Homo sapiens: one gene and its partners. The protein of the gene in region 3 purifies or fractionates together with the protein of the main gene of each other region. This does not show direct contact. Each region holds a gene or a part of one and is shown on either strand. Other genes may lie near its edges. The genes, in order: LRRC8E, DNAJC16, DUOXA2 and OCLN.

The links.
Region 1: the proteins of DUOXA2 (region 3) and LRRC8E purify together in Homo sapiens (co-immunoprecipitation; 2 studies listed by BioGRID and IntAct, with this or other methods). This does not show direct contact.
Region 2: the proteins of DUOXA2 (region 3) and DNAJC16 purify together in Homo sapiens (co-immunoprecipitation; 2 studies listed by BioGRID and IntAct, with this or other methods). This does not show direct contact.
Region 4: the proteins of DUOXA2 (region 3) and OCLN purify together in Homo sapiens (co-immunoprecipitation; 2 studies listed by BioGRID and IntAct, with this or other methods). This does not show direct contact.

What each region holds. Positions count from the first base shown.
Region 1 is NC_000019.10:7,891,510-7,898,532, reverse strand, and holds part of LRRC8E (volume-regulated anion channel subunit LRRC8E), read right to left. Parts: intron 4,961-7,023; exon of another isoform or gene 4,674-4,960; intron 4,014-4,673; exon of another isoform or gene 3,194-4,013; intron 2,935-3,193; 5' UTR 2,930-2,934; coding exon 2,792-2,929; intron 1-2,791. UniProt on the Homo sapiens protein: Non-essential component of the volume-regulated anion channel (VRAC, also named VSOAC channel), an anion channel required to maintain a constant cell volume in response to extracellular or intracellular osmotic changes.
Region 2 is NC_000001.11:15,564,843-15,571,865, reverse strand, and holds the end of DNAJC16 (dnaJ homolog subfamily C member 16 isoform 1 precursor), read right to left. Parts: intron 5,948-7,023; coding exon 5,867-5,947; intron 5,785-5,866; coding exon 5,686-5,784; exon of another isoform or gene 5,456-5,685; intron 4,768-5,455; coding exon 4,597-4,767; intron 4,089-4,596; coding exon 3,689-4,088; 3' UTR 133-3,688; downstream 1-132. UniProt on the Homo sapiens protein: Plays an important role in regulating the size of autophagosomes during the formation process.
Region 3 is NC_000015.10:45,110,006-45,117,348, forward strand, and holds the start of DUOXA2 (dual oxidase maturation factor 2), read left to right. Parts: upstream 1-4,320; 5' UTR 4,321-4,600; coding exon 4,601-4,747; intron 4,748-5,793; coding exon 5,794-5,851; intron 5,852-6,118; coding exon 6,119-6,253; intron 6,254-6,459; coding exon of another isoform or gene 6,460-6,510; coding exon 6,511-6,724; intron 6,725-7,085; coding exon 7,086-7,300; intron 7,301-7,343. Other genes in the region: DUOX2 (dual oxidase 2 isoform 2 precursor), read right to left, coding at 423-519, 645-705, 1,106-1,272, 1,379-1,580, 1,763-1,950, 2,549-2,713, 2,982-3,071, 3,337-3,406. UniProt on the Homo sapiens protein: Required for the maturation and the transport from the endoplasmic reticulum to the plasma membrane of functional DUOX2. May play a role in thyroid hormone synthesis.
Region 4 is NC_000005.10:69,544,773-69,551,795, reverse strand, and holds part of OCLN (occludin), read right to left. Parts: intron 6,893-7,023; coding exon 6,677-6,892; intron 3,867-6,676; coding exon 3,695-3,866; intron 253-3,694; coding exon 211-252; intron 1-210. UniProt on the Homo sapiens protein: May play a role in the formation and regulation of the tight junction (TJ) paracellular permeability barrier.

The DNA of each region.
Region 1 (7,023 bases), on a different chromosome or scaffold from region 3:
ACAAAATTAGCCGGGCATGGTGGTGGGCACCTGTAATCCCAGCTACTCGGGAGGCTGAGGCAGGAGAATCGCTTGAACCCGGAAGATGGAGGTTGCAGTGAGCCGAGATCGCGCCATTGTACTCCAGCCTGGGTGACAGAGTGAGCCTCTGTCTCAAAAATAAATTAATTTAAAAAAGAGAGAAAATGAGGGGGATGGGGAAAAAGCAGGCTGAAGGTGGGAGACCCCCCGCACCCCCCATCTCTGACTGTTGCCAGCCAGCTGTGATTTTGGAAGAGTTTTGCTAAACCTCTAAGCACTGTTTTTTTTTTTTTTGGTTTTTTTTTTTGAGACAAGAGTCTCGCTCTGTCAGGCTGTGTGCAGTGGTGCAATCTTGGCTCATTGCAACCTTCCCCTCCTGGTTCAAGCAATTCTCCTGCCTCAGCCTGCTGAGTAGCCGGGGCTACAAGCACGCACTACCACGCCTAGCTAATTTTTGTATTTTTAGTAGAGATGGGGTTTCACCATGTTGGCCAGGCTGCTCTCGAACTCCTGGCCTCAAGTGATCCCCTGCCTCAGCTTCCCAAAGTGCTGGGATTACAGGAATGAGCCACCACAACTGACAAAGCACTGGTCTTTGTCTGAGAAAAGGAGCTGGGTTGAATCGTGTCCCCACAAAAGATGTTGAAGTCCCAACTCCGAATCCTTAGAATGTGGTATTATTTGAGCTGGGTCAGGCGGCTCCTGTTTGGTAATAGGGTCTTTGCAGAGGTAGTCAAGACAAAGCCAGTAGGGTGGGCCCAGTATGACTGCGCCTTAGAGAAAGGGGAAACATAGACACAGAGACAGACACAAAGACAGAAGATGACGTGAGGATACAGGGAGAGGCTGGGTGCGGTGGCTCAGGCTTGTAATCCCAGTGATTTGGGAGGCAGTGGGAGGGGGGGCCAAGCGGGGGTGGTAGAGGAGGATTGCTTGAGGCCAGGAGTACAAGGTTACAGTGAGCTATTATTGCGCCACTGCACTCCAGCCTAGGTGACAGAGCTTGCTTAAAAAAAAAAAAAAAAAACTGTCTCGACCAGGCGCAGTGGCTCATGCCTGTAATCCCAGCACTTTGGGAGACAGAGGCAGGCTGATCCTGATCACGAGGTCAGGAGTTCAAGACCAGCCTGGCCAACATACTGAAACCACGTCTCTACTAAAAATACAAAAAAATATTAGCCGGGCGTGGTGGCACACGCCTGTAATCCCAGCTACTTGGGAGGCTAAGCCAGGAGAATTGTTGGAACCCGGGAGGCGGAGGTTGCAGTGAGCCGAGATCGCACCACTGCATGCCAGCCTGGGCGACAGAGGGAGACTCTGTCTAAAAAAAAAAGAAAAAGAAAAAGAAAAATACTGGGAGAATGTCATCTACAAGCCAAGGAACTCTTGGAGCTGCAAAAATCTAGGAGGGAAGCTTGGAAGATTCTCCCTCACTGACAACTGACGCCTTGATCTCAGACTTCTGGCCTCCAGAACCAGACCCAGAAGAGGAAACATTTCTGGTTATTTAAGCCACTCAATCCCTGCTACTTTGTTACAACAGAAGTAACAAACTCATATAGCAACTGCAGTCCTTTCCAGATTCTAGGGATAAAACTGAGCATTGTGAAAATATGGGGCTGGACACAGTGGCTCACACCTGTAATCCCAGCACTTTGGGAGGCCGAGGTGGGAGGATGGCTTGAGGCCCGGAGTCCGAGACAAGCCTGGGCAACATAGCAAGACCCCTGTGTCAACAAGAAATTTAAAAATTAGCTGGACGTGGTGGTGTGTGCCTGTAATCCCAGCTACTCTGGAGGCTGAGGCGGGAAGATCACTTGAGTCCAGGAGTTCAAGGCTGCAGTGAGCTGTGATCATGCCACTGCACTCCAACCTGGATGACAGAATGAGACCGTGTTTCTTTATTTTAATTTTCAATTATTTTATTTTATTTTTTTTAAGATGGAGTCTCGTTCTGTCACCCAGGCTGGAGTGCAGTGGCATGATCTCGGCTCACTGCAACCTCCACCTCCCAGGTTCAAGCAATTTTCCTGCCTCAGCCTTCCAAGTAGCTGGGATTACAGGTGTCCACCACCATGCCTGGCTAATATTTGTGTCTTTAGTAAGGACGGGTTTTCACCGTGTTGGCCAGGCTGGTCTCAAACTTCTGGCCTTAAGTGATACTCCCACCTTGGCCTCCCAAAGTGCTGGGATTACAGGTGTGAGCCACCATGCCCGGCCCCTGTCTCTTTTTAGCCAAAAAGAAAAAAAAAAAAAAGAAAAAAAAAGAAAGGGTCAGGTGCAGTGCCTCAGGCCTGTAATCCCAACACTTTGGGAGGCCCAGGCAGGCAGGTCACTTGAGGTCAGGAGTTCGAGACCAGCCTGGCTAACATGGTGAAACCCCATCTCTACTAAAAAACTACCAAAATTAGCCAGGCGTGGTGGTGGGCGCCTGTAATCCCAGCTACTCAGGAGGCTGAGGCAGGAGAACCGCTTGTACCCGGGAGGCAGATGTTGCAGGGAGCTGAGATCATGCCACTGTACTCTAGCCTGGGTGACAGAGTGAGACTCCGTCTCAAAAAAGAAAAAAAGATATGGAATGGCATAGCAATGTGGGGACTCCGGTGCTCCTGGCTATGGAGGTAAGGAAGATAAGGGGTCTGGATTGGCCTTTGAGTGGGGCTCTGTCTTCAGTTTCCTCTCTTTCTTGGGTGATGAGAAGGCTTCCCGACTTCCCCAGACACCTGCCCCGCCCCTCTGGTCACACCCCCTTGCCAGGGGAGGGCCTCACCTGGAGGGTGCAGCCAAAGACCCCAATCATGAGCATGGCCACGGTGAGGTACTCGGCCAGCACGTCCCACCAGGGTTTGAGCACCTTGAACGCAGGCTGCTGTTCCGTGAACTGCTTGAACTCGGCCACTGGGATCATGCTGCCTGTGGGACGGGACGAGACGGGGGGTGTAGAGAGAGACCCTCAGGATGGGAGGCTCTGCAGGGGGTCCTCCGAGGAGCCGGACACAGGCAGGCCTGTGACCCTCCCTGCCCAAACTTGTCCAAACCACCAAAGTGTGTGCCCCCACTTCCCTCTTAGCCTGGCCTTAGTCACCCTCCATGCAGACGTCACCACCTGCCCAGAACCAAGCGGCCACTGTTCCCCTCTGGGCACCCCTGCACCTGATCTGACTTGTCTGACCTCGAAGAGCACATGAGGGATAGTCCACAGGGCCGCCGCCCTCCAGCCTCCTCGGGTGGCCCCCTCCCCAAAACGAGGCATCCCTCTCCCACCCCTGACACCAAGGCCTGAAAACATCTGCCTCGATGCTCCCTGACTGCAGACACTCAGCGTCTGGGCCAGCCCCGGCTCCCACCGCCACCAGGCCTGAAAGCGTTCCAAGGCTCAGGACTTCCGGGGCGTAGGCCCCTCCACCCCCTCCAGGGGCACTCTGGGCACCACCTCCAACCTCTAACCGGAAAAGCCGGCTGGAGCCTGGCTCTGGTTACTAGGGCCCCAGGGGCAGGGACTGCCAAGCTGAAGGCTAGTCAGCCCTGGGGGTAGGAGGTGACCAGGACACCTGAGTTTCTAAAGGGGCTACAGCCCAGAATCACAGGCAGAAACCAGAGACCTGGGCTCTGAGAGGGGGCAATGGGGTGTCCGGATGTCCGAGGAGGAAGGAGGATTTGCAAATGGAAAGTTGTCAGGTGACATCTGCGACCAGGCTAGGGCTGTGCTGTCAGGCTCCTGGCCGGCCCACTCTGTCTGTTCCCAGGGTCTCCTTTTAGACCAAGCTATCACTATTACAGATACAGACAGGCCAGCCACAAATCACACTGGGGCGTGGGGCATGAGCTGAGATGTCACTCTCCCAGGCAGGTACCTACTTCCCCAGAGGCTGGAGGTGGAACAAGGAAGGTGGGGAACCTTAGACCAGCCCACTTCTGCCAACATCCAAGTTCCCCCACTCCTGGGAGCCTCCTGTCCTTGTCCAGATAGATAATCTGTAACTGGGGCTGGGCGCGGTGGCTCATGCCTGTAATCCCAGCACTATGGGAAGCTGAGGCAGGTGGATCACTTGAGGTTAGGAGTTCGAGACCAGTGAGGCCAACATGGTGAAACCCAGAGTCTACTAAAAATACACAAAAAATTAACCAGGTGTGGTGACACACACCTGTAATCCTAGCTACTCTGGAGGCTGAGGTGGGAGGGTCTTGATCCGGGGAGGCAGAGGTGGCAGTGAAGTGAGACCGTGCCACTGCACTCCAGCCTGGGTGACAGAGTGAGACTCCATCTCAAACAAACAAAACAAAAGACAAAGATAATCTGTAACGGGACAGGAGTTGGGCCAAGAAGGAGGGCATCTGCCCATCAGGGAGTTATCTCTGGCTCCCCATCCATCTCCCCAGGAAGAATCTAGGGAAACCCTGGTCCCCTGACCCACGACTCAGCCAATGGTTCTGACATGTCTGAGCCTCCCTTTTCAGTTTGTGTCCCCCCCATATTTTGGGGTGACTCCTGGGTTAAAACAAGGTAGGATACAGGCTCCACCCACCAAGCTAAAGGCCAAGCAGTCCCGAAAGACCACATCCTTTTACCCCCTCAGAGGCCCCCACTTCAGTCTGGGGAATCAGATAGGCAGGCAAGGGTGTGGGTACAGCCTGCCCACACGGGGACTCACCATGCAAGTGTAAAATGTCATAGGTTGGGCCAGGCGCAGTGGCTCACGTCTGTAATCCCAGCACTTTGGGAGGCCAAGGCAGGCGGATCACAAGGTCAGGAGTTCGAAACCAGCCTGGCCAGCATGGTGAAACCCCGTCTCTTCTAAAAATACAAAAATTAGCCGGGCATGGTGGCATGAACCTGTAGTCCCAGCTAGGCAGGAGAATCGCTTGAACCCGGGAAGCGGAGGTTGTGGTGAGCTGAGATCGTGCCACTGCAATCTAGCCTGGGAGACGGAGCGAGACTCTGTCTCGGGAAAAAAAAAAAAAAAAGTCATGGGTTCCCTGACTCAGGCAGTGACTCACCCAGACCCAGATCCATGCAAGGGGGTGCCCAGAGCACAGGGTCCTTCGCACCATGGCCTGGCCCTCATGCTCATTCACACTCCCTGCCCTAAGCAAAAAGCCAAGTATACTTTGGGAGGCCGAGGTGGGCAGATCACTTGAGGTTAGGAGTTCGAGACCAGCCTGGCCAACATGGTGAAACTCCGTCTCTATTAAAAATACAAAAATTAGCCAGGTGCGGTGGCTCACGCCTGTAATCCCAGCACTTTGGGAGGCCGAGGCAGGCAAATCACAAGGTCAGGAGTTAGGGACCAGCCTGGCCAACGTGATGAAACCCCGTCTCTACTAAAAATACAAAAAATTAGCTGGGCGTGGTGGCAGGTGCCTGTAATCCCAGCTACTAGGGAGGCTGAGGCAGGAGGATCGCTTGAACCTGGGAGGCAGAGGTTGCAGTGAGCTGAGATTGCGCCACTGCACTCTAGCCCAGACAATAGTGCAAGACTCTGTCTCAAAACTAAAACAAAATAAAAATAAAAATACAAAACAGCCAGTCATGGTGGAGGGTGCCTGTAGTCCCGGTTACTCGGGAGGCTGAGGCACGAAAACCCCTTGAACCCGGGAGGCGGAGGTTGCAGTCAGCCAAGATTGCACTACTGCATTCCAGCCTGGGCGACAGAGCAAGACCCTGTCTCTAAAAAAGAGAAGAGAAGAGAAAAGAAACCCGACTACAAATATCCCAGTCTGCCTGGGTCACCAGTATGTAATCTGGTAGAAACATACCAGGATAGCTCAACTGTCCCCAGGGGAAGAATATGTACATTGCACCCACCAAAATGGACGCTTGGGGTCATTTTGGGTCATGCATATTTGTGCACGAGGGTATAAAGTCCAAGTACACACACTGAGCTTCGGAGGGACCCAGCACCAGGGACCCTCACGTCCTGTTTTGGTTCCGGCCATCCATTGAGTCCTCCAAGGATCCTGCAGGGACACTGCTCAGTTGCTTTACCTAAGAATGCTGACCCCAGGCTGGGTGCAGTGGCTCAGGCCTGTAATTCCAGCACTTTGGGAGGCTGAGGCAGGAGGATTGCTTGAGCCCAGGAGTTTGAGCAGCCAGGACAACATAGTCAGACCCCATTTCTACAAAAAAATCTAAAAATTTGGGCCGGGTGCGGTGGCTCACGCCTGTAATCCCAGCACTTTGGGAGGCCGAGGTGGGTGGATCACGAGGTCAGGAGATTGAGACCATCCTGGCTAATGCGGCGAAACCCCGTCTCTACTAAAAATACAAAAAATTAGCCGGGCATAGTGGCAGACGCCTGTAGTCCCAGCTACTTGGGAGGCTGAGGCAGGAGAATGGCGTGAACCTGGGAGGCAGAGCCTGCAGTGAGCCAAGATTGCACAACTGTACTCCAGCCTGGGCGACAGAGCGAGACTCCGTCTCAAAAAAAAAAAAAAAATCTAAAATCTTGCCAGGTGTGGTGGTGCATGCCTGTAGTCCCAGCTACTTGGAAGACTGAGGTGGGAGGATTGCTTGAACCCAGGAGTTAGAGGCTGCAGTGAGCCATGAACCAGCCTGGGCAAGACCCTATCTCAAACACAGCAAGCAAAACACTACTGACTGGGGCCGGGCGCGGTGGCTCTCGCCTGTAATCCCAGCACTTTGGGAGGCCAAGGTAGGCGGATAATTTGAGGTCAGGAGTTCCAGACCAGCCTGGCCAACATGGTGAAACCTCGTCTCTACTAAAAATACAAAAACAATTAGCCAGGCATGGTGGTGGATGCCTGTAATCCCAGCTACTCAGGAGAGTGAGGCAGGAGAATTGCTTAAACTCGGGAGACAGAAGCTGCAGTGAGCCAAGATCTCGCCACTGCACTCCAGCCTGGGCGACAGAGCGAGACTCCGTCTCAAAAAAACAAAACAAAACAAAAACTCCTGACTCTGGAGGCTGCAGAAGAAATCACACAACACACACACACACACACAAACACACACACACACACACACACCCGAGCAGGGACCAA
Region 2 (7,023 bases), on a different chromosome or scaffold from region 3:
ACTGTAATTCCTGAAATCTGCAGTTATGCTGTGGTGATCTTAAGCGTGTCTTGAGTTCCATGCAAATTCAATTCTGTTGATAATGTGTCCATAATCAAATCATCATCTTGCAATGCAAGGGCTACCCCATAATTATCAGACATTAAAATAGTTTATTTCTTTTTCCATTCTGTAATCTTAAAATAACATCAGCTTCAGTGCCTGTTCACAATACAAAAAAAGTCAAAAAACAAAAACAACACCCAAAACATAAAAAAGAAACAATTTGCCAAATAAGTTATTTGTTCCTAAGAGTATCAAAAGTGCAAAATATTCACCTTCTTTTCAGATCTCTCCCAAGCATAATTATCCTCCTTGACAAACTGAACAGACAGATTCAGCAGCTGCCACACTGCACTTGTTTTTAGGGGACAATGTCAGACAGGTGGATGTGAACTACAGTTCCTCTGTAAAGATGTTTGGCATCAGCTTTTAAAGAATTCTAGTTAACAAAACAGGTCTGAGTATGTGCTTCCAATCTCTATTCCCAAACAAAGGAAATCACTAAAAAAACAGATCACACTTCTTTTTATAACAGAAAAATATTTATGTAATGATGGCAGCTGCAAATTGATTGGGATGTTAATAAATAAAAAGGAACAAGTATCAACAAGCTGCAAATGAGGAAGAAACCAACCTACCTGAAAACTACAACCAAATTCTCATGGCTAATAAGTGATGGCAGTGAGACCATGGCCCCTAATGGAAGTTAGGGCAGCCTCACCCACTGAAATGTTGTTTAGTTGGAGCTGATAGCCTCAGTGTTAGATAAAAATTGTGCAACACCTGAGCAACAAATTTTTTTTTTTTTTTGGAAATTGGCATGTATTCTGCAAAGACTTGTTTTAGGCCAGTTTTACCCCATCTGCTAAACGCAATGCATAGTCTGTATCAACCAGAAGAACCCATCTCTAAAAACATCAATGTTGATAGTCAAAGACCACTGTGTTAGAACCAAAATCAGGTCTTGTATGATTACATACATCAGACAGAGCAATGGTGGCACAGGCTGAGCATGACAATGGCTCATATGTTTGACGCAAAAGTAAACAAATTCATGGATGCATTCAGGAGGAATGCCTTGCATGGACAAGGGTAAAGTTCAATTTAAAATAAAAGCTCCCTAATATTCTCATAGGGCACCAGCTCTAAACCGGTCTGTAGAAGAGCTTTTGGGCTGAAACATCTGCCAGGAACATTGCCAATCCCATCACTACCTTCATTTCCTAGTGCAAATGGAAGGTGCAGCTGTTTGAAGGTGCTTTTTAAAAGATCAAAAGATGACTTGAAGAGATAAAAATGTTTAAAAATGAACAAATCTGGCATGGTGGCTCATATTGATAATCCCAGCACTTTGGGAGGCCAAGGTGGAAGGACTGCTTGAGGCCAGGAGTTTGGGACCAGCCTGGGCAACATAGCAAGACCTCGTCTCTATTAAAAAAAATATAAATAAATACACTTGGAGAGTTTTTGGTTTTCAGAAATTAAAGTCAGGAATTTCATTAGTACAGAAATTAAAAATAAAAACCTACTACCAAACCAAAAGACCACTCATATAAGCAATCTGGCCATAAAATACCTAGAAAGTAATATTGAGGACTGATGTATCAAGGAGCCAAATGAATTCCTTGACCATTTCTAGTTGGACCAGGTGCCATGAGATACAGCATTCAGAGGAAGTGTCCATTTTTAGAGGATCATATGGAAGAATGAAGCCTGGCAGTGATTTATTTTTTAATAAAGCTACAGACTCCATGAAAACTACAGGAATTCCTGGCCTTAAATAATTTATTACTTACCAATGTAGCTCAAGATTTAAATTATTCAGGATCCAAGTGGCTTAGTTTAAAGCATTAAGATTAAAGAAATACTAACTTAGCCGGGAGTGGTGGCTCACGCCTGTAATCCCAGCAGCACTTTGGGAGGCTGAGGCAGGCAGATCACCTGAGGTCAGGAGTTCATGACCAGCCTGATCAACATGGAGAAATCCCGTCTCTACTAAAAATACAAAATTAGCCGGGCTAATTACATGGTGGCACATGCCTGTAATCCTAGCTACTCAGGAGGCTGAGGCAGGAGAATCACTTGAACCTGGGATGTGGAGGTTGCGGTGAACCGAGATCGCACCATTTCACTCCAGCCTGGGCAACAAGAGTGAAACTCTGTCTCAACAACTAAAAAAAAAAAAAAAAAAAGAAATACTTAGTAAATGTCCCATCACTGATTTTCACCCTTCACAAAGCCACCAAAGGCACCTTGCTTTGACATTTGAACGGACCACTCTTTGAAGCTGTCCAAACTCAAACTCAGAACCACTGGTCATTCTGCCCTGAAAAATAAAAGGTATGCTCTCTAACTGGCTGGTATGAGGCACCCTGGGGTCCACTATACCTGGAGCTCAGCACGCTCAGGTGCTGATGGCCAGTCTGACCCCAATACTGGTGAAGCAGCTCTAAGTTAAGAGTGAAAACAATGAAGATGAGACATCAAAATACAGCCCAGAAGTGGAAAGTAAGCCTTTTGCAAAATGGGAGTCTAGAACAAATCTTGGCTCACTTCCTGCAAAAGATGACTTGAAGAGACAGCACTTTTAGGGTAACAGTGTTCAAAATACAATTGTTGAGAAATTTTAAGTTCCTTGATACAAAGACATGTTTGGTATTTTACTAAAGAGACACTATTGAAGAGATTCCTTAAGCCTGACTCATAGCAGGTGGGAATAATTTCTCTTCAGTTTAACATCTACTGGCTTTATAGCAGCTTATCTCTACGTTCAGAGAACAAGATTACAAGTTATGGCTCCTAATATCCATACCCTAAAATCGACAGAGGCAGAAAGGCATCTGAAGACATACATGTCAACGGCTCAAAGTCATCACAGTACTTCTCGCTGTGCAGACCCCTCCCCTGGCTACCAGCAGCGCTGGGGCGGCGGATGGGATGCTCACAGCGTGTCTCAAGGCTGCATCGCTTCAGCCACTGCTCAGCCTCCCTTTCCTTTTCTTGAGAACTCACATGCAGAACTCCCGTTTATTCCTTTCCTTTTCAACCTGTGGCCAACAAACTGTTGTTGGGGGATACCCCCAAAATATACATTTAGCCACTTACTCCCAGAACAACCAGTAAACGTGAGATTGCTTGGAAAGGGGCCTTTTTCCAGATGCGGGGCTAGAAGCTGCCGTGGGTTGTTCAGAGTTAGGAGCATGCGCCATGGCAGCAGCACAGCAGGGCCGGGATTGGGGAAGGGGCCAATGACCTGGCCTGCACGACAGGCTCATGAGGGTCCGCCAGATGCCGCTTGCAGGGTGGAGCCCTGTGCTTCTCCAAGACACAGGACAGGAGGGTGGGGTGAGCATGGGACAAGGACAAGAAAGGAAGAGGGGATGAGCAGTCTATTTTCAATGGTGTGGCATTCAGTGGGGAAAAATAACACCCAGAGGAAAAGATTTTCATCTAGGCGATTCAAACTGGTGGTGTTTTTCATTCCTAGGTTAGAACAGGACAAAGGAAAGATTCTTCTAGCCATGGTTCTAGAAGAGCAATCTAAAATCTATACTCTGTTCATTGTGGTAGTTTGAGTCCTGAAAATACCTGTTCACAGGGGCATGTTAAAAAGTCTGAAGAGTTCAAATCTCTTTGGAAAATCCTCTCAGTCTAGTTCAGGCCATGATGGGATATAAAACCTCTGTAAGGAGCCCTCCAGCAGGCGTTCCATCCATAAAGAGAGCTTGCTCAACTTTCCTTTGATGGGCCTGGATCCAAGGCCACAGGAAGGTTTCCCTCGAGATTCACCCAGGTAGAGGGAAGAGTCAACATCACTGCACGACCCTATGGCTTCCTCCTCTTCGACTGTCTTTTGGGGCTTGAAGAGGCAGAAGTATTTCTTGTGGCCATTCAGAGCCAGTACATAACCAGTGTAGTCACGCTCCATGAAATGCTTATCATATTGGTTTGGGATTGGAGCTGCATCTTGAGCAAATTCTAGTAAGTATTCTAGCCATTCTCTGTGTTTATCTAGACTCAGGAAGGAGAAGTGTAGGCAGCTGCTCCTGTAGGAAGAAGAGAATTGAGGACTCAGGGCATTTCCTGACACATTTAATTGCTGAGAAAATAAATACCCCAGTGAGACTTAAAATAATAGGAAAACGCTTTGTGTTGGATGGGGCCTGAACACAGAGAAAAAGAAGGCCTTCTGTGGGAGCCAGTGCCTCTCCAGCAGCTGCGACACTTCAATCACCCATTCCCCCATCGCTTGCTCGGTGGAACTTAACATTGCTCTTCTGGAAAATACACAAGGGCTAGAGAACAGTAACTGAAAGGGCTCAGGGAATAACACTGAGTTCAAGCTTTTCTGTTCAGAACCAACAAAACACGAAGTGAAGTGGGAAAAGAGGTCCCTGTCGCAATGGCTCAGATGTCTGGATTGGAAAGGTCACAGCCAGCATCTTGCTGTATGGATGAAGCCCCACAAGACCAAAGAGAAAAGCGTGCAATTTCAGTGTGCCTGCCTCTCTCTCTCTCACACACATACATACATGCACACACACACATGCTTACCCAGTAAATGTGTAGACCTCCAAAGCAAATTTCTGTAGTAGGCTGGTCTTGGTAGAATTCGACAGGATGAGGACCACATTCATGTGGCCTGGCCTCAGACGTACCAAGTTACTGGTGTATGTTACATCTGTGAGTTCAGTTACCTCCACAAAGCCTTTTTTAGGAATCTTGCTGTGGAGAAATATTGAGGAGTTAAGATGCTGTCAGGATAGGGGGAAAGCCGTTACTTTGAAAAGAAACAGCTGAAAGAAAATGCTATGTTCTAACCAGACTAGGTATGTTATTCACTATTCTTGAGTCTAACACATTGGTAGGATGGGGATGGCCTGACTTGGTAATCCCTGACCTACAAACAGCCTTTCTGTGCTGCTTTTCTTTTTCTTTTTGAGATAGGTTCTTGCTCTGTTTTCCAGGCTTGAGTGCAGCGACATGATCATGGCTCACTGCAGCCTCGACCTCCTGGGCTCAAGTGATCCTCCTACCTCAGCCTCCCAAGTAGCTGGGACTACAGGTGCCTGCCACCACATCCAGCTAATTTTATAAGTTTTTTGTAGAGACAGGGTCTTGCCATGTTGCCTAAGCTAGTCTCAAACCCTGGGCTCAAGCAATCCTCCCACCTAGGCCTCCTAAAAGTCTTGGGATTACAGGCGTGAGCCACTGTGCCCTGCTTGATGCTGCTTTTCAGGTGCAGAAGTTGCTCTAGGACAGAATGAAGAAGACAACTATCATTCAGTCTATGTTCTTTGTCTCGGAGACCCTGGCCTCTTGCTGCTGGGTGTGTGTGCGCACAAGACTGGTTACGTTCATTGACATTTACAGGGATAAACCACGTCCTGCTTCTGGCTCACCTAACACTTGCCTGATAGGCTTCTTTCCTTCTGCCTTCATTATGAAATCTAAGGCATCTAAACACCTACAGGGTCTTAGTAAACACAAATCACAGTGACTTTTCCCTGTAGCCACAGTTTACATGGGAGGAGGTGCATGAGAGTTCTTCTCTACACTCTATGTTCCAATGCTGCGTTATCAGATGACAGGATCTGGGGGGCAGGTGCCGGGGAGGTGAGTCTGGTGTTTTGTTAGAGAAACCTGCTGTTTTCTTTGGTGAAGCTTGGCTCAGTTTTCCCAGTCTTCTCTTGGGCTTCCTCTTTTTCTGGAGGGCTTGACTCTCGCTCATCATTAGAGTCGCTAAAGTAAGAAAAAAGGAGTTTTACAAAAAAAGTGTCAACACCAACCATGGTGGTGCACCGAGAAGCCACAGGACATTTACCTGAAAGCCTGAACGATGACAGTGCCGAAGAGGATGAAGAGGGCAGAGAAGATCAGGGACAGCAGGGGCATCATTTCCCTCCTAAAACCAAATTAACAAACTATTAGCTCAAGTTAAAATTTCTTCTCTCCAGCTAAAAAAAGATAAAATAAAAATCCCAAACCAAAAACTCTTCACACCAATAAACGCTTACTAATTTCAGGCAAACAGAGCTTTTCTTGGCGGGTGGAGGTGGTGGAGGGGAAGGTAGAGATTGCTCAGTGTTCTAATTCACAGACAGCTTATTCTAAAAGTTTGATTTTGTATCTCAGTATAATAGGCTATGCTCAATAAGTTCTGCATGAGGAAACAATAAAAGGGATAATAAAGGACTTAAGGTGTAAACATGGAAGAATTTTCTGACATTGTGGAATTATTTCCTCAACTTTACTGATTTTTTTCTGGCCAGAAAAATTCAGATGTAGCCCAGAGGGGTGGAGTAGGGAGATAAAATTGATCTTTCAAGATTTCATCTAGGACTGGTGTTCTGAAATTTTATGTACCTACCAACACCCATCAAAGGCTGTCATTTGTCAGGTGCTGTGTTGGGTGCCAGGAATCACAAACACGAATGAGATGTGGTTCTGTCCTTCAGGGGCTCATGGTCTCATCAGTAGGTGGGAGTGGGTATCCCTCTTGAGGTTAATTCACTCATTCCTTTTACATCTATACACTGGACTCCACGTGTGTCAGGCCCTGTGCTGGGCACCAGAGGTTCCCTGATGAAGAGACAGTCCCAGGCTCTGCTGCCCAGAATGGCAGCCATGGGTGATCCTTTCCTAGCCAGTGGGAAAGGGTCAGTCAGCCAATATAAAAAAAGGGAAGTGGCCGGGCATGGTGGCACACGCCTGTAATCCCAGCACTTTGGGAGGCTGAGGTGGGTGGATCACCTGAGGTCAGGAGTTCGAGACCAGCCTTACCAACATGGTGAAACACTGTCTCTACTAAACATACAAAAATTAGCTGGGCATGGTGGTGGGTGCCTGTAATCTCAGCTTCTCGGGAGGCTGAGACAGGAGAATCGCTTGAACCTGGGAGGCAGAGGTTGCAGTGAGCTGAGATCGTGCCACTGCATTCCAGTCTGAGTGACAGAGTGAGACTCTGTCTCAAAAAAAAAT
Region 3 (7,343 bases):
TGAGGGAATTTGGAGAAGAATCAAAGATGGGGTTGAGTGGGCTGAGGGACTCAGTGGGGGTTCACTAGGATTGAGCAGTGGCCCAGGAACTTCCTTGAACACGGCAGAGATTTGGTGATGTGCGTTTACTGAAGATAGAGTGCGCTCCTAGTCCAGGTAGGGTGGGGAGAGGAGGGAAGGGAATGACCCAGCTGCTAGACAAATCCTACACCCAGCCACCAAATTTCAGCCCTTAGGAGAGCTGGAGAGATTTCCCTACTAAGCCTACACATCTTACCCCAGGGTTCTGTTTCAGGGCCCCAAATTTTTGCTTCCCCTTCTCTAGTGAAACTGCGAAGGAGTGTGAAAGGCCCCAGCCCCCAAGGCAGCTCATTCTGCACCTTTCTTAGTGTGGTGCCCCTCTCTGCCAACCCCTCCCTCACCTCATGTAGACACCAGGGGGCACCATGGTAGAGAAGAACTGCTCAGAGGCCACCACAAATTCCGGGGAGATGCTGGGGTCTAGGAAAGGACGGTATCCTGCAGGAAGGAGACGGTGATGATGGGGAGACAGGCTTCTTGCCTCCACATCCTCCCATCACAGGCACCTGTCTCCTTCCCCTCAGGATTCTCCGCACAGGTGTCCTCCTTCCCCGCTCCCTCACCTGTATACTCCGGGAGTGTTTTCTGCAGGAAGCTGGGCAGCCACTCATACACAGCGATGTTCTGAGGGGCAGAGAGGGGCGAGGGGAGGCACAAGTTGGATGGTGTGGGGCCTGGAAGGGTCTGAGCCCAAGGACGGCTTCCGTGTGGAGATGAGACCAGGAAGGGTCAATCATGGGAGAAGCAACTCAGACAGGAGCAGTGTGAGGCCTGTCCCCACAAGGAACCAGGGGATTTGAGGGAGTGGGGGTTGGGGAGGTGATAAATAATCATCACCAGCCAGATTTCTCCTATAAACAGCGCGTGCCTCCCTATCATTTACAGGGGCTTCCCTAGACCTCGGCTGTCTGGGGAGGGGTTTCTGGGTGGCGGTTGTCCACAGATGGGGAGCTCCATGGGGCAGCGGAGTCTCCCGTGGGCTTGCACGCGGAAGGGAGGACGTCGCGGGGCGCGGACGGCTGACCTGGTAGGTGGCGATGACCCTCTTGCGTGCGTGCTGGAACAGCTCCTCGTCCTCCCAGTCTGGGTGCTGGCGGGCCAGCCTCTGCGCCCACAGGTTGTGGTAGCGGAACCAGAGCAGGCCCAGCGCCTGCAGGAAGGGTTCCCGGTTCCCTCTCTCTGCCCCGAAGGCTGCATCCGACGTGGGGGCGCAGGGGAGGAGACGAGCGGTAGCGTGATCGGGGGAGCCCACACTCGCAGACCCCCAGCCGGCCCCGTCCCGCCCCTGTGGCCTCACCGTACAGCCCCCGGGGCCCGTTCTGCCCGGTGGCGGGGTCGGGCGCCGCCCACATGAGCAGGGGGTTCTGCGAGTCTCGGGGGAAAGCGGGGTCGGGCCCCGACGCCAGCTGTCCCCCCGAGAAGCTCCGCAGCGCGTCGCTCCAGGAGTGCGAGGAGCCATAGATGGCGCTGCCGTCCAGCCAGCCCGTCACCTGGTTGGCCTGCGGGGCACGCGGCGGGTGAGCCCGGGTCGAGAGGCGGCGGCGGGCCAGGGAAGGCCGGGGCCCGGCGGGTGTCCGCGGCTGGGGAGTGGGCGCCTCTCCCCTCCAGGCCCTGCCAGGCCCGAAGCCCAGGCCCCACCTGGCTGGGGTGCGGTCCCTTCCCGCCGCCTTCCCCGCCTCACCAGGTCCCGGGGGTTGCTGGGACTCCGTCCGGTCTCGGGGTCCCAGCGGCTCCTCTGGAAGGGCAGCACCACGTCCCCGCGCTGGTCGGGGTCGAACACGGGGTCTCCAGGTGGGATGCGGATGTTGAGGAACTCGGCGGGGCAACCGGGCGTTTCCACGCTCACCACGTCGGAAAGAACATGGTAGCCTGCGGGCATGGGGCGCCAATACGTGACAAACCGTCCGTATTGCGCCCTCCCCACGGCCAGGGCGGCCTCCAAGTGTCCTCAGGAGCCAAAAGACAGAGGTCCCAGTGCCAGCTCCGCCACCAGCTCTGCACGTTAGCCCCAGGTAGCCTCAATTTTCTAATCTGCAAAGTAAGACTATAGTGAGTTCCCTTCCTACTCAATTCATAAAGCTGTTGTGAGAATCAAAATGATATAATTTATGTAGGGGTACCCCAAGTCAGTCCTCCTCCCTCTGGGCTAGGGGGAGGTAAAATGGTTACAAACACACGGTGAGGAGAGCGGTGGCTGGGGAGCTCAGTTCCCAAGAGCTATAATGGGGGTCCAGTGACACCCCTAGGTTGGAATAAGGCGTAAGAGAAAGGTTAGATACAGAGCAAATATCTCTGTATCAACATCCCAAAATCTCTCCGAGATGAAGGCAGTCTCGAAGTGCTGCGTAGAGAGGAAGTGGTTGGGAGTCGGATGGGTCTCCTGTGGACTCGCAGACGGGATCTGGCCCCTCCCCCAGGCTGAGCAGAGCGCCAGATCAACCCCACTGGTCTCCCCCTTTGCCCTCACCAAAGAAGACCCCCAGTACGGTGCGGTTGTGGAGCGACGGCAGGCCGGCTATGCCCCGCGTGGCTGCGTTGCTGAGCCGGCGCGGGTTGGGCAGCTGCGGCTCCTCCAGAGCCTGATACACACCGTCGGCGTAATTGGCTGGTACGCGGCGCTGCAACCGGCAGCCTGCGGAGGCAGGGAGCGGGGCTCTGTCTAAGCACTCCATCCCCTAGGATCCCCCAAACCTCTCCCTAAGCCTCCCTCAACCCCCATCCCACTTCACTGACAGAACCTTCCCTCAAGGGTCTCTTGGCCCCGGGAGCGCATAAGATTGCGCTGTGTAGGCAGCGGAGCTGCTGGGCGCGTGTTCCCCGCAGATTCCCCGCTCAGGGCCTTTCGCGCCCCGGCCCTTCGCGAGCCACGGCCCCAGCACGCCCGGGCCCCCAGAACGCACCAACAGCACCACGCTCGTGGTGCCTCAGGTTGTTAAACCAGCCGTCATAGCGCTGCACTTCCCAGGGCAGTGAGAGTGCGTCCTGACTGCCTGTGGGCACAGAGAAGGGCCTCCTCAGCACTACGCTCCCAGCTACCCCTCCCGAGCAACGAAGGCCTTGGCCAGTCCTTCCCCAGCTCGCGGAGCGCCCCTAACCGGACCCAAGTGTCGGGCCGCACTGGGAAGTTTCCCATCCCGCTGAGCTGCACGGCGAAATGACCTTCCAGTCTCAGGGAGCCGCTTGCCGCACCTCTCCCCGCCCCACCTCCCAGGGATCCTGGGGAACACCCCGCCGCTAGAGGAGCCTGATACTTGCCCGATGGACCCAGGGATCCAGTCAGAAGAGCTCCCAGGAGCATCAGTGCCTCTGGTCTTGCACGGAGCATGCCAACCCTGCAGCCTGCGGGGTGAGGGTGGGGGTGGTAGGTGGTATGCGAAAGCCACTGTTAGGGCGTCCTCTATGCCTCCCCTCTTGTTCCTACAGCTAGTACTGGAGGAGGAGCACCAGCTGTTTCCACTTCTGGAAGGTAGCTGTTAGAAGCATCACCGAGGACCTTCATCCAAACGCCACTCTTTCCAGGACAATTGGCAGCTCTGGAGGCATTGACACTGTTCCCCATCCGCCACCCCATCAGAGAGTTAACCCCCGACCATAGGAACCCACTGGGCAGGAGTCTTCTGGGGCATGTCAGTCCAGGGCAGGACTGGTCAAGCCTCCCAGGGTGTGCCCAATGTCTCCAATGTTTCACCTCCACCCGCCCCCGATCCGTCAGGCTCCGCTTCTCCTCCAGGAGGCAGGGAAGGGAAAAAGGTTACTGACCTGGGAGTGAGGGACTGCAGCACCCTTCCACAATGAATCCCCCCTTCCCCAATAAACTCCCCTTCTGCAATGAACGCCTGTGCATGATGGGCGAGGGCTAGGGTCAGATCCCAAACTCTGGTCTAACCTGTGGTTTAGGGTGGTGTTGGGTTCAGATGTCTTCTTTCCTCTTAAAATCTTTGCTTCTGTGCTCTACTTCTTGCCTTCACCCTCACTCTTCCAGCTCCGCCGATCCTCAGCCTCCCCGGCTGCACTCTCACCTTTCTCTCTGGGTCCTTGGTCTCGCCACTGTGCAGGTGTCGGCTCAGGACAGACCTGCGCCAGTGTGAGCATCTGGACCTAGGGCTCACCCTCCTGCCGTGGAGGTGGGGCCCTTATTTGCACAACCTCTTCCAGCTCAGACCAGCCCCTGGGCTGGGACACCCGTGTGGCACGTCGCCCACGCTGCTATAAAAGGGGTCCCGCGCGACTTCCAAACTCAGCGCCAACCCGCAGAACCAGGAAAGTAACGGCTACAGACAGTGAGAAATAGTTTCGCTCGCCGGCTAGAAAAACTCTGTCGGTACCAACCCCAGAGCGTTGAGAGCAGCCCACCTCCACGCTTCCTTAACGGAGAGGTGCAGGACTCAGACTTCACCAGCCCACTCGGTCCCAGCCTTGTACGCAAAGAGACGCCAAGGACGCGCTCTCCCGCGTCCAGGCAGCCCCAGCTTGCTGGCTTGCCTGCCCGCCTGCGTGCAGCACTCGGCCGGCGTGCAGCATGACCCTGTGGAACGGCGTACTGCCTTTTTACCCCCAGCCCCGGCATGCCGCAGGCTTCAGCGTTCCACTGCTCATCGTTATTCTAGTGTTTTTGGCTCTAGCAGCAAGCTTCCTGCTCATCTTGCCGGGGATCCGTGGCCACTCGGTAAGGGTGTCCTCATAGTGCAGGTAGAGTGGGGGAAGGCTCATGGGCAGATTGTCTCCTGAGGGACCCAGGACAGGTAAGACTGTACAAGAGCCTCCATGAATAGTCGAATTGAGGCTCAGGTGGAGTGAAGTCAGGAGTCTGGTGCAGCAAGCACCCCTTTCCAAGGATAGGGAGAGCTCCCCATCCAGGATATCCTGGAGAAGGACCCCAGCTGGGTCCTTGGGAAGGCTGCTGCAGAGAATGGGCACCCAGTCCAGTAATCCTGAGGAACAGTCTAGGCTTCTTGTGCTGGAGGGCCTCCCACCTCTCCCAGGACTAAAGCTGCACTCTCATCCCATCCGGTGGGTGATGACCTTCAGGCCAAAAGGACAGATGCCAGCAGCTCAGACTGCAGTGTTCCCCTTTGCACTGGGTTGAGACACATGTGTATGGGTGCCTCATCCTCAGGACTGAGACTCCCACATTGGATTAGAAGTTGGAGCCAACTGGGTGCATTGTCTTAGACTTTCCCCCTCTCCCAGAACCTAGGTTGTGCATTTTTCAGTTCTGGGAGGACCCAGCTTTTCTGCATCTTAATCTGTGTTGCTTTCCCTGGAACTGGTGCACCTAGGAGTATCTGCATTCCCACCTCCTCCCCTCGGAGATCAGGCTGGGGCCTCCCTCTTCTGAGGGAGGTGACCCCTGCGTGCCTAGCACTTCTGGACTCACTGAGCCTCACCAAGCAGTGACTGGACCAGGAGGCAGAACCAGGACCAGGCGCCAGACAGCTAGGGGAGTGAAGGTGGTGGAAGAGTGCCAGGAAGTGGGGGTGGAGGGGAGGTGCTGTTAGGGTAGATGGGAAATGGGGCTAGGGAGGTGAAAGTGCGTGGTCACAAAATATCAGAAATGCCAGTAGCCCAGAGGGACTTGCAGGAAAAGCGTGCCTAACATTAGTCTCAAAAGTCTGGATATAACTAAAGATCCAGGTGAAGTGGGGTCAAGGGTGGTCTTGGGGACTCTGGTTTGGCAGGGCTCAGGCCTGACCCGGGTGCCTATTCCTGCAGCGCTGGTTTTGGTTGGTGAGAGTTCTTCTCAGTCTGTTCATAGGCGCAGAAATTGTGGGTGAGTGTGTGGTGCAGCCCATGGGGAGAGGACGGGGTGAGGAAGGAGGTGGGCAGAGGGCACCTGGGACAATAGGGAACTGGGGTTGGTTTTCTGCTCCCTCTTCCCACTCTCCAGCTCCTTCTAGGGCCCACTTTTTGGCCCTTACCATGCAACCACATTGGACCTCTAAGTCCCCATCTCTCTGCAGTGTCCCACCTCCCATACCACTCTCTAATTCCATTTTCCCACCCTCATCCCACCCCCACCGTGTGCCTTTCCCTACAGCTGTGCACTTCAGTGCAGAATGGTTCGTGGGTACAGTGAACACCAACACATCCTACAAAGCCTTCAGCGCAGCGCGCGTTACAGCCCGTGTCCGTCTGCTCGTGGGCCTGGAGGGCATTAATATTACACTCACAGGTGAGGGGGCTGGGGCTAAATGAACTCCTGGAGCTGGGAGATCCCCGGTTAGGTGAGTGTGTCAGGGATAGCTGGAGGGCCTCTCACATCCCACAAGCTCAAATAGCTTGTGGTCCTCGTGGATTTGCGTTTTCTCCAACCACCACCGAACCCATTTCTCCCGCCGAGAGCGCCACACCCCCACTTTCCTGTCTGAATCCGCTTAGTTGCGAGGTCTCCGACCGCGGGCAGCCCCATGAGCCCGCCTCACCCCACAGGGACCCCAGTGCATCAGCTGAACGAGACCATTGACTACAACGAGCAGTTCACCTGGCGTCTGAAAGAGAATTACGCCGCGGAGTACGCGAACGCACTGGAGAAGGGGCTGCCGGACCCAGTGCTCTACCTGGCGGAGAAGTTCACACCGAGTAGCCCTTGCGGCCTGTACCACCAGTACCACCTGGCGGGACACTACGCCTCGGCCACGCTATGGTAAGTGCTGGAGGGAAGGCTGTGTGCACGTGTGTGTGTGCCAGGAGCTGGGCCGTATGAGCGGGAGGATGCAGGCCTCGGAGGCGCTGAGCAGCTGCAGCCAGACCCGACGCGCTCGGGGTGGGCATGACAGCCTCGCGGGTTAGAAGATCCACGAGATCTGCACAGACGGAATCCGGAGAGACTCCAGCCACCGCCTGGACCTCAGGAGCCCGCTTCTCCCCCGGGGAATTCCCCTGCACCGCTGCCATCCCAGTCCCTGGCTTTGACGCTGGGGTAGGGATAAAGAAGAGCGCAGCTGTGGGAACCCCGGTGGGCTGGGAGAAGCCCGCTCACAGCGGGTCCCCCCACTCCCCGGCAGGGTGGCGTTCTGCTTCTGGCTCCTCTCCAACGTGCTGCTCTCCACGCCGGCCCCGCTCTACGGAGGCCTGGCACTGCTGACCACCGGAGCCTTCGCGCTCTTCGGGGTCTTCGCCTTGGCCTCCATCTCTAGCGTGCCGCTCTGCCCGCTCCGCCTAGGCTCCTCCGCGCTCACCACTCAGTACGGCGCCGCCTTCTGGGTCACGCTGGCAACCGGTGAGGACCGAGAGAATGGGCCCCGGGGGCTAAGGGTGGAGAC
Region 4 (7,023 bases), on a different chromosome or scaffold from region 3:
TATGTGGTCACATTGTGAAAATTCACCATGTTATACACTTTGATTTATACACTTTTCTGTATGTATACTTCAACTTTTAAAAAATATATAAAATAAAAAATGAAAAACATGTAATAGAAAAGCTCTTCCTCCAGATGAGTAGGTATGGGAATTAAAATAAAAAGAAGAAGAAAGAAAGTTCTTCCTAAAAGAACAATCTCGGATACTTACTCCCTTCACTTGCTTCAGTCTATTGTATTCATCAGCAGCAGCCTATTAACGACAGACACAAAGGAATATGTTTACTGGGGCATTTTCTCTTTTAAAAGTAACATTCCTGATGTTATACTTTGGAGCTAAAAATGACAGCTTATGACAAAAATATAAGCAATTAAAAGAATGAAGTCGTAAAGCTCTTAAAACTCATGATCAGCAGGAAGGTCTGAAGGAATTCAGTGAAGAGACATTTATGATACTGTATCTTTCACATTTCACTCACATAGGCAGGTAACTATCTGTTCTGCTACTTCTCATCTCTCCTCATGCCAGTCCCCATGCTACATTGACACCAGGAAGATCTTTTATAACACAGAGCGCTCGCTGATCAGGTAATATCCCACTACACAACTGGTCTGAGCTTCCCATTAACTTCTCCCCTCATCCAGTTTCCTACCTTTCCAGTCTCAGTACCCATCATCAGCAACTCCTTTAAAAACTGAGACATGTTAAATGCTTCAGGATTTCAATCATGTTTTCCTTATGGCTGTAATCATGCACCTCCCCGCACCCTTCTGTCTGGAAAGCTCTTAACGATTCCCTCACTGTGAAGCCTCCAAAGACTTTATTTCTTCTATGAGCAGTTAGTTATAGTGCTTTCTACACATGATGCAAATACAGCATTAATCATACTGTCTAAATTGTTTAGATGTCAGGTTTTTTTTCTTAAAATATAAGCTCTTTTAGGGTGGGGACAAGATTTTATGTCTCTAGCTCCAGCATTTCCACATCATCAAAGAAAAATAAGTGATCAATAAATGTTCACTAAATTAAGAAAGATCTATAACACCCTATAGAAACCATAAAAGAAATACATAAATCTAACTATATAAAGATGTGAATACGTCAAAACTAAAAAGTAGATCACCTCAACTGAAAAATGGCAGAATATTTAATGAGATGTGCATCAAATGAGTCCTGTATTGTATCAAGAGGGAGACACAGTTGGTGCAGTCTCTCTGGAGGGCAATTTTGCAACTTTGCAAAGGTACGTACCCTCTGACTCTCAGCAATTTCACATTCTGGAATTAGTTTTAGTTAGATAAGCAGGCTGGGCACTGTGGCTCACACACGTAATTCCAGCACTTTGGGAGGCCAAGGCAGGCAGATCACCTGAGGTCAGGAGTTCGAGGCTAGCCTGACCAACATGGCAAAACCCCGTCTCTACTAAAAATACAAAAATTAGTCAGGTGTGGTGCCACATGCCTGTAATCCCAGCTACTCGGGAGGCTGAGGCGGGAGAATCACTTGAACCTAGGAGGCGAAGGTTGCAGTGAGCCAAGATAGCGCCACTGCACTCCAGCCTGGGCGACAGAGCAAGACTCCGTCTCAAAAAAAAAAAAAAAAAAAAATTAGATAAGTAGACAAGAGTGCAAAAACAGAGAGGTTCACCAGTATATACTGGTACTACTGGAGTAGGGGGAGACATACTTAAATGTCTATCCATAGAAAATGACTCTTAAATTATGATACAACCATAAATTTGAAAGTTGTTTACCTAATTTTACACATAAAAAACTTAAAAGTAAGTAGGTCTTTATTATTGATATAAAAAAAAAAACTTGCTGTTAAGAAAAGCCAGAAATAAGCAGTGCAAGGAAGTTTTTTTGTTTGTTTTTTTTTTAAAGATAAAACCCCACAATAAGAGTATGTCAAAGGGACACGGGAAGCAACTGAAAGTTCCCAACCGTCAAAGCGAGAACAATTAGAGCTACAAAATAAAGCAGCCTTGGATTATAATTCACAGTATAAAACAGGTATCTGTAAAGTCCATACTTACGTAAGTGATTGACTGATCAATAAAGGAACAAATAAACAAGAAGAGATTAATCTCCCTCTAAAAGGTGGTGTAACTACATTAATTTCAGTATGTATACAAAATACAGTATGAAAAGGATGGATTGAAAAAAAAATCCAGTAACTTTACATGGACAAATTCTATCTCAGCCAGGTGATCAAGGGAGGGAAAAAAAAAACCCATAAACTGTTGATTTAAAAGACAGGAAGAAAATAAGTGAAACATGGAAGATGATGTTTCCTTAAAGAAAGGTGTATGTGCCTTGGTGACTCCTGCTTGGAGAGATTGTTTTAACTAATATTTTGGTGATAAGGATTTCTTGATGGTAGGATTTAAGATGATTTCTTTTTCTGTATACAGTTCTGTGTTACTTAAGTTCTTTTTTTTTTTTTTTTTTTTTTTGAGATGGAGTCTCACTCTGTCACTCAGGCTGGAGTGCAGTGGCGCGATCTTGGCTCACTGCAAGCTCCGCCTCCTGGGTTCACACCATTCTCCTGCCTCAGCCTCCCAAGTAGCTGAGACTACAAGTACCCGCCACCATACCTGGCTAATTTTTTGTATTTTTTTTTTTTTTTTAGTAGAGACGGGGTTTCACTGTGTTAGCCAGGATGGTCTCGATCTCCTGACCTCATGATCCGCCCACCTCGGCCTCCCAAAGTGCTGGGATTACAGGCATTAGCCACCGTGCCCGGCCGCTTAAGTTCTTTTCTACAGAAAGAATGAATGGCTTTATAAATAGGAAAGATAATAAGGCTATTTTATTATTATTATTATTAATTTTTGAGATGGAGTCTCACTCTGTCGCCCAGGCTGGAGTGCAATGGCGCAATCTTGGCTCACTGCAACCTCCCCCATCCCAGGTTCAAGCAATTCTCCTGTCTCAGCCTCCCCGAGTAGCTGGGATTACAGGTGTCTGCCACCATGCCCTGCTATTTTTTGTATTTTTAGTAGAGATGGGGTTTCACCATGTTAGGCACGCTATTCTCTAACTCCTGACCTCAGGTGATCCACTTGCCTTGGCCTCCCAAAGTGTGGGGATTATAGCCATGAGCCACCATGCCCAGCCTGGCTATTTTATTTTAAATAGGAAAGGATAGATGTACATAGAATAGTGCTTTGTAGGGGCTGGGCGCGGTGGCTCACGCCTGTAATCCCAGCACTTTGGGAGGCTAAGACGGGCAGATCACGAGGTCAGGAGATCGAGACCATCCTGGCTAACATGGTGAAACCCCGTCTCTACTAAAAAAAAAAAATACAAAAAATTAGCCGGGCGTGGTGGCAGGCACCTGTAATCCCAGCTACTTGGGAGGCTGAGTCAGGAGAATGGCGTGAACCCGGGAGGCAGAGCTTGCAGTGAGCTGAGATCACGCCACTGCACTCCAGCCTGGGCAACAGAACGAGACTCCACCTCAAAAAAAAAAAAAAAACAGAATAGTGCTTTGTAATTATTAACTATTATACATTAGTACAATCTTCTATTAGGAAAGAATTTCATCCAAAACCCAATCTCAACTATTCTTCAATGAAACTGCAGTTTGATAACTACTAGCACATTTTTATCAACATTAATATAAAGGATGCTGTACCTCCACAGATTAGATTCAAATTCTGTTTAATATATAAATATCAGGTTGAATTTACCATGTACTCTTCACTTTCTTCTCTATAGTCATCCAATTCTTTATCCAAACGGGAGAGTTCTTTATTGATCTCATCAAGTTCTGATTGTAAGCTCTTGTATTCCTGTAGGCCAGTGTCAAAATTCCTCTTGTACAGTTGTCTTTGTTGATCTGAAGTGATAGGTGGATATTCCCTAAAAGGTGAGAGAGAAAATGACTACATATGTATCCTTAGCAGACATAAAATTCAATGCTCCTTCCTCAAAGATAATAAAGCTGGTTGGGTATGGAGAATGACATTTTCTTGTTTCGTTTTTGTTTCTTATGGGGAAAGAGAGAGAGAATACAAATAAGTTCTATTAAGAGTGACTATATATTACTGCTCATTTTTTAAAAAATAAAAACTATGCCTACGTAATTTGCAGAAATAATTTTGAAAATCATTTACAAAATTGAAGGTACAAGTCATAGGAACTCACTTATTTCCCATACACAATATCAATAATGGACTACTTATGTTTATAAAGTTTTTCTTTTCTTTTTTTTTTTTTTTTGAGACAAAGCCTGCTCTGTCACCCAGGATGGAGTGCAGTGGCACAATCTCGGCTCACTGCAACCTCCACCTCCCGGGTTCAAGCGATTTTCGTGCCTCAGTCTCCACAGTAGCTGGGATTACAGGTGCCTGCCACCACGCCCGGCTAATTTTTGTATTTTAGTAGAGACAGGGTTTCACCATGTTGGCCAGGCTAGTCTCAAACTCCTGACCTCAGGTGATCCACCTGCCTCAGCCTCCCAAAGTGCTGGGATTACAGGAGTGAGCCACCATGCCTGGCCTGTTTAAAGTCTTAAAACTGGAATTCTGGAACACAAAGTCCGCTTTGATCACCACAGTGGCAGCACAGCTGACTGGAAGTGGCTGTTTCCTGCTACCACCCATAGTTTTCAGACTGGTTTATTTATTTTTTTGCTCTTGTTTTTCCGAAGTGGAAATAGCTTATCTACTTCTTTCACAATAAAAATAGACATTAAAAATGTACATGTATAAAAACATGTGCTCACTGTTAAAATAATCTGGCAATTCATTAAAGTATAAAGAAGAAAAACTGAAATTTTGTATCACATCTATTTCTCAATATACCAGCCACTCCTTACATAGGAAGACGATGCCATTAACCCATAATCCATAGAGAAAATACTCTGAATCCTTTCACAGGACTGGAGTTTCACAATGATGTGGAATTTCAAATTTTAGATCTAACAATCTAACATCTTCATTTTACAGAGGGGAGAAATTTAAATGATTTGATCAAAAGGGAAACAAGAATTTCAGATTTTGAAAATTTTCAGGCTGGGCATGGTAGCTCACCCCTGTAATCCCAGCACTTTGGGAGGCCGAGGTGGGTGGATCACCTGAGGTCAGGAGTTTGAGACCAGCCCAGCCAACATGGTGAAACCCTGTCTCTATTAAAACTACAAAAATTAGCCGGGTGTGGTGGCGCATGCCTGTAATCCCAGCTCTTCGGGAGGCTGAGGCAGGAGGATTGCTTGAACCTGGGAGGCGGAGGTTGCAGTGAGCCAAGATCGTGCCACTGCACTCCAGCCTGGGCAACAGAGTGAGACTCTATCTCAAAAAAATATATAAAGTTTTCAGTTAAATCTTCCGTGATACAAGTTAGGTGAATATTTTACAGATAGATGGCTAAGCCAGGCCAAAAACTCTTGAGGGGAGAGGGGAAGATAAAGTATCAGAATCATCAGTGAATAGGGGATCTCAAGCTACCCATGCCCCGCCTATCATTCCTCACTCTCTGAGAAGCGATGTTTTGATTACCATTCACATTGCAAATGTTTCTGATGTGCGTCTTAGTCCTCAGAATACTTGGGCATAGGAAGGCTACACATCATACACAAATACATTTGGTGATGGTGGATGGATTGTAACAAAACCACCAAAACACAAAGAAACTTAACCACAACTGTGGCTGAACACTAAATTGTTACCTCAATTGTTTACGGAACTCTTTGGATTAAACTTTAAAAGAAACTCTCGTCTTATCATTTTAAGCTTAATTTAAAAAATAATTGCCGGCCAGGCGCGGTGGCTCACTCCTGTAATCCCAGCACTTTGGGAGGCCGAGGCAGGGAGATCATCTGAGGTCAGGATTTTCAAGATCAGCCTGGCCAACATGGTGAAACCCGTCTCTACTAAAAATACAATAATTAGCCGGGCATGGTGGTGGGCGCCTGTAATCCCAGCTACTTGGTAGGCTGAGGCAGGAATTGCTTGAACCCGGAAGGCAGAGGTTGCACCGAGCCGAGATCGTGCCATTGCACTCCAGCCTGGGCGACAGAGCAAGACTCCGTCTCAAAAAAAAAAAGTAATGCCAAAGGAAAACCATAGCACTGGTTTGGGAATTTTATAATTAGTAAAACAAAGTTCTTCTATACCTGGATTTTATTTATTTGAAAGGCCTTTGGTTGTTTTTTGAGATAGGGTCTAGCTCTATCACCCAGCCTGGGGTGCAATGATGCAATTATAGCTCACTGCAGCCTTGAACTCCTGGGCTTAAGCAATCCTCCTGCCTCAGCCTCAGCCTCCCGAGTAGCTGGAACTACAGGCCCACACCACTATGCCTGGCTGGTCTTGAACTCTTAGCCTTAGCCTCCCAAAGTGCTAGGACATCTTTCTTCCGTGACTATTGGTATAAGAAAGAGCACTGGTGAAGTTCACCAGCCACACTGTGGAAAGTTCAAAGTGGTTACTGCCAAAGTTCAAAGACATGGTTACTGCCAAACATTCTCTCCACTTCAAACTTTGTCACAAAAGGGTGCTAAGGAAAAAACCAGCCAACACCACACAAAAAACTGTCTCCAGTCCTGGTTGGCAAAGAATGAAATTACACCAGTGACCTCAATTTGGGAGGCAATAACTCCAACACCTGGTTGGTCTCCTTTAATTATCAGAAGGAGCACGTGGGCCAGGAAAGGAGAGCTGAGTCGGTACCTGATCCAGTCCTCCTCCAGCTCATCACAGGACTCGCCGCCAGTTGTGTAGTCTGTCTCATAGTGATCTTGCTCTGTTCTCTTTGACCTTCCTGCTCTTCCCTTTGCAGGTGCTCTTTTTGAAGGTGTCTCAAAGTTACCACCGCTGCTGTAACGAGGCTGCCTGAAGTCATCCACAGGCGAAGTTAATGGAAGCTCCTGAACCACTTCAGGAACCCTAATAAAAACAGGCATCATTGTTCAGTACACTACAGCCCTTTGCCAGTGCACTGTAATCACAGAGCACAGCCATAATAAACACCAGCAGACATCTGCACGCAGGTGCACTCACGCGAGGACTTCAGATGT